2 separate regions of the Homo sapiens genome follow, and region 2 is linked to region 1. Evidence: fine-mapped expression QTL. Tissue or cell type: adrenal gland. Region 1 holds a variant in brackets; the other region holds the start of a gene. All regions are shown on one strand. Distances are between the middles of the regions.

Region 1 (2,840 bases):
TTACTACCTACACTTTGGGGATTGAGGGTTTCTTTAGCTTTGAGACTGGGAGGCAGCTTAGCAGTGTAGACAGTTAGCTCATAATTCCTGCAGGGGTACAAGTGCCAAACCAAGTGCTATGATCCCTGGAGAGGCAGCCTCACCCACGAGGGCCTGGGGGCCTGAGTTCAGATCCTCACTCTGCATCTAACAAGCCGTATTGACCGGGGAGGGTCACTCAGCCTCTCCTGCCTCAGTTTCCTGATTCGTGTAACAGGGATAACATCAGCTGGCTTCCCTTGACACACCATCTATTAAACTGATTGATATGAATAAAGGATTTAGAATAGGGTCTTGAAGAAGGCGGTGCTGGACCCACGGACAGTGGCCAATGGGTATTGTTTGTCATCATCATCGTCACCATCACCATTGCTTTCGTCATAATCATCACTGTCACCATCATCAGCGTTCAGAGGAAAGGGGGTGTAGAGGGTCGTGTATCACCCAGAGGTGGATCTTGAGTTAAGCTTCGAAGCAGAGCAGGAGCCAGCTGTGCACGATGATGACATTAACAGCCGGCACTTTCCTCTGTGTTTTACACGCATGACAACGGGTTGACAGAAAAAGAGAGAGCTGGGCATCAGCCAAACAGAAAGTTGTGCACGGAAATACAGAAAAGGACTCGGCGATATTTATGAGCCCATGAAGTACAGAAGTAGTTAAGGATTGGAGTTCCAGTAAGAGCGCATCGCATGCCAGTCTTATCGTGCCTTGCTTTCTGGAATGATGAGACTCCCCTTCTCCCCTCCCCCCTCACCCACTCTGTCTCCCCCTGCCTCCCACCCTCCTACCTCCCCAAACTCTCCATGGACTGTTTAGGCCTTAACAACTCTGGAGAGCTATTAGGATCTATCAAGCGAACAATAATTTACTTCACGAAGTGATGTGTGTGATTTTCACCATTGACTCTAATCGCAACAGAAAATCATTTCAGTCGGCTGAGTGCATAATCTGTGTGTGCTGAACTTCTCTAAGCTTGGACTTACCTAAGGGAGGAAAATGGTCCCCTGGGACCCACTCAAGAGACGCGGAGTAAACAGCGTGCATTTCGTAAATGGGCTGGGGGTGTGCCAGAACCATCGCCGGGGACCCACCGCTGTCAGCCTAGAAGGCCATCGAACACTCAGAAACCATCTTCACAAATCCTTCTAGGGTGAGGTGGGGGGGTGAGGAGTCAGGGGTCGTGCACCTAACCATCAAAGACAGTGTGGATGTCCTGCTCATCTGCCACCGGG[T/C]GGCGCAAAGAGAAAAGGAGAGCAGACAGAGCAAGGAGGCACGTGTCCTTCCTCCTCCATCACATCTGCAGACTGAGCCCAAGCATCGGGAGCCATGTGGCCAGGCAGAAATGGGAAGTCATCTGTGCCCCTTGCTAGCGGACATGGTCCCAGGGACAGGTCCTGTCCTGTCCTGAGGCTGGAACTTCAGGAGTCCCAGGCCAATCATCACGCTACCAACTTGAGGAGCTTGAGATTTTCTAGTTTAGAAAGCAGGTACACAATTGTACATAGAGCACCAGCGTACCCAGGTATAAAGAAAGAAATATGCCAACCTGTTGGCCGTGGCTACCTTTCAGAGACTGGATTATGAGTTTTAGTATTTTCTAAAATTTTCTACAATGAATATGCAAGTAATAATAATAATATAAGATCTTACAAAGAAAAAAGTCTCAAGATTCCACTCTGACCATGTGTCCAAGTTCTAGCAACAAAATTAATGCCTAGGGAATGCCATGGCCAAGTCCCATCAGGACAGGGACTTACTTCACAACATCAAGAGATTTTAGTAAAAAGTGCAGGGGCCAGGGACAGTGGCTGTAATTCTGATGCTTTGAGAGGCCAAGGCAGGAGGATCGCTTGAGCCCAGGAGTTCAAGAACAGCCTGGGCAACATAGTGAGATCCCTGTCTCTACAAAAAAAAAAAATTGTTTTAGATTAGCTGGGAATGGTGGCATGCACCTGTAGTCTTAGCTACTCAGGAGGCTGAGGTGGGAAGATAGCTCGAGCCCAGGAGGTCGAGACTGCAGTGAGCTGAGATTGCACCACTGCACCCCAGCCTGAGCAACAGAGCAAGACTCTATCTCAAAAAAGATGGGGGTTGGGGAGCAACAGAGCAAGACTCTATCTCAAAAAAGATGCAGGAAAAAGAGCACAGAGTGGAGAAGCAGAAGAGATTCTTAAGTTCTTGTCCTATAGGTAAGAGCTAAAACAAGTCACTTGCTGACCTAGAGTCTCAATATTCATGTCCCTTGACTGCAGGCAAAAGCTGGCCTCACCTCCTATGATTAATTGACACTTGTTGCTTCTCCCTGCTCGGGTTCCTTCCCCTTTCCTTTGCTGCCTGCTGCTGTCCTGCTCTGTGTAATTCGGCGTGGATGTCCCTGCTTCCCCCAGGTCAGGCAGGCTCCTGAGCAGCCCCCAAAGCACAGATGTAGTGCCCGATGGGGTGGGGAGGGGATGGCAGCCTGGCAGAGCTGAACACTTGGGGAAAGGGAATTTCTCTCCTTTGGGGCACTCAAGCACCGAGGGTCATGGAAGCCGGGAGCTGCCATGTTGCACAGAGTAAGTCTGTCTGAGAATGAAGCCAGCTAATGAGAAAACAGAGCAAAGAGATGGAGAAACTGAGGCCTGGGGATGTCACTTGAGCCATGACATCAGCATAGCCAAAGCCAGCCCCAGCCTCTGAAAAAAAAAAAAAAAATTTGGCTGGGCGAGGTGGCTCACACCTGCAATCCCAAAGTGCTGGCCTTGACTAAGGCCAAGGCAGTCGGCTCACCTGAGGTCAGGAGTTCGAGACCACCCAGG
Region 2 (2,500 bases), 92 kb before region 1:
CGTCGCCCAGGCTGGCACTTTTTAGGGCGCCGCCAAAGTGCCCAGCCACCCTCCCGCCCCATCCCAGGGGGGGCCGCGATCCCATCGCTTACTTGTTTGTCGCTGAGCGCGGCGATCCGCGGCTGCCTTTCGTGGAGCTGCTTCTTGAGGTCGCCGTTCTGCGGAAACACGGAGGAGCGGGCTCAGGCAGGCCACCCGGGGTCAGGTGCACCCCAGCACCGCGGGCCGCGGCACCCCCCGCCCGGAGCCCCACGGGCGGGGCCGGCCGCAGCGCACCCCAAGTTTCCCGGGCCGCGTCCTGCACGCGCGGCGGCCGGGCAGTGCCGCGCGGGGCCGCTTACCTGTGGCTGCCGCCTCATCGGGGCAGCTCGCGGGGCGGGGCGGGGGCCGAGGCCACCCGGCGGCGCGCCCCGAGCCGTGCAAGTTTGCAGGCCGGGGTGCGTGTGCGAGTGAGTGTGAGTGTGAGTGTGTGCCGGGGGAGGGGGGAGGAACAAAGAGCCAAGTAAACACGGCGAGTCCGTGTCGAGCAAAGCTCATAAATATTCAAGTCGCGTCCTAATCTCCCCAACACACACACGCGCACGCCGAGCCCCGCTCAGGCTCCGGCCGCCACGCCGCCGCTCGCCAGCAGCGATCGCCAAAACTACTTCTGCACACCGGGCAGGTTCGCCCGGGGCGCGGGGGCCCGAGGGGAGGCCGGAAGGGGGCCTATTCGCACTCCCCTCCCCGGGACCGGCTCACGAAGGGGCCCCCTCCAGGCACCCTCCCAGTCATGCAGACCCTACATCGCTTAAGAGAAGACTCCAGGCTCGGGTCCCACGCGTCCTCGATCCCGCAAACTGTGCAGGACAGCGCCAGGGGCAGGCGGAGGGGAGCCCAGAAGGGGGTCCGCGCGTGTGCTCACTCCCTCGCCCCCCGCCCCCGGGCAGGCTCCAGCCTGGAAGACCCAGAGACCCGGAAGAGAGGATGCTGGGCTCGGGTCCCCCGACCCCCTCACCCCGCAACACACTCCCCGGCCCCGGGCCCGGCCCCCGGCCACCTACCTGGTGGCGCGCGAGTTCCACGGCGAGCGCCTCGGGCCGGCTCTGCAGCTCCATCCCGGCAACTTGGGCAGCACTTTGCGCTCACTTTGGCCCGGGCTCCCGGGAAGTTGCGCGGCTCCGCGGGGGCCAGAGCGGGCGCGGGCGGACGCGGCCTCCGGGCTGGGTTGGGGGGGACACGAGCCCCCTCCCCCACGGCCGAAAGGGAAGGGGGCTGGCGAAGGGGAAGACAGGCTTCCGGGCGCCGCGGCGCCGAGCCCTCGGCTGCCCCAACTCCTCAGGCTGCCCGGCAAGTTGCGCCGGGTCCCCGGGCTGCCGGCGCGGCCCGGAGCATGGCCCCCCCGGCGCCGGGAGCCCCGCGCAGCCCCGCGCGCGCCCGCCCAGCCGCCGCCGCCGCCGCCTCCTCCCGCGCGAGCCTCCCGCGGGCAGGGACTATATTTCCTCCGGCGCGCGCGCCTGGATCTCGTTGGGCCTCGGCAAAGTTGTGCCTCGGCACGATGCTAATTCGGCAGTGCCCGGATGGAGCGGGCCGGGGCGGCGGGGGGCGGTGCCGGGACCCTCAGCCCGCCGCGCCCCGCCCCCGCCCCGCCCGCGCCTGCGCACTGCCGCCCCGCCGCGGCCCGGCACCCCGAGCGGAGAACAAAAGTGGCGGTGGACGGGGACGCACGGTCGCCGGCTCCGGGGACTGCTCGGGCCGGGCGCTCGGAGAGGACGACTGCGGAGTCATCCTCTCCGTCCCCGGGCCAACCCGGGGAACGCGGCGCCCCCACCCCCTGCGCCGTGTAACGCCGGGATCAGGACACTTTCCGCTGGGAGGCTGCGAGTCCGTGTTTCCATTTCTCCTCACCCTGGTCCTCGGCTCCCTCCTTTCCCCCCTCCTCCGCCTCCCTCTGATATTTTATTTAAATTCTTCCGTCCCCTCCTGTCCATACCAGCGCCGCGACTTGGGGGATTAAATTAGTCGCGTCGCCACATTCCCCCGCCGCCTGATGGCCTCCGTGTTGTTTAAACAGCAAGAAAATTGATCTCTTGGCTCTTCCTTTAATGATTTTTTTTTACACGATTAAACTCTCAACAGATGTCACTGGACATTTTAAGACTCTTGTTAAGAGTCGTAAACAGGCCCGGTCAATGCGACCTAAAACAATTATAATTACAGCTGCGGAGGTCGCGTTTCAGAACCCCCAGCCGCGCAGCCAGGAGGTTAATGTCCCAGAGTCACTGTCACCACCTCGGGGCTGCCATCTTCATTCAGGTCGGAGTGCCGGGTGCCCTGTTGGCAGCAAACTGGCACGTTTGAAACACGCTGGGGAGAAAGGGTGCAATCATATGTCAAAGTAAACGTTTAAGCTGTTAAGTCGTTTTAACTTCAGATTCCTCTCCGGCAGCACAAAAAATACCCAAGCAAGCACCATCAGCAAATGTCCCTTTCAACATATGCCAACAGGTCACACATTGCT

Which allele goes with the higher level. Positions count from the first base shown, and alleles are read on the strand shown. Sizes are in standard deviations (SD) of each study's normalised expression.
For the expression in adrenal gland of the gene that starts at base 1,553 in region 2, allele T in region 1 goes with a lower level than allele C (small effect, 0.36 SD a copy in GTEx).

What was found. PIP is the estimated chance that this variant, and not a neighbour inherited with it, causes the effect.
Region 2: it holds the start of PHF21B, and the variant in region 1 is fine-mapped to the expression of PHF21B in adrenal gland (GTEx, PIP above 0.99).

Annotation. Positions count from the first base shown.
Region 1 is chr22:45,100,750-45,103,589 of GRCh38, forward strand. No RefSeq gene overlaps it. Among named protein-coding and RNA genes, the nearest start is that of NUP50-DT, 62 kb to the right of the region's middle. The variant T/C (reference allele first, on the strand shown) is at 1,275.
Region 2 is chr22:45,008,453-45,010,952 of GRCh38, forward strand. PHF21B (PHD finger protein 21B) reads right to left here and starts at 1,553. Exons shown (of 13, transcript NM_138415.5): 1 at 1,044-1,553; 2 at 93-158. The coding sequence starts at 1,097. RefSeq lists an enhancer at 1-533.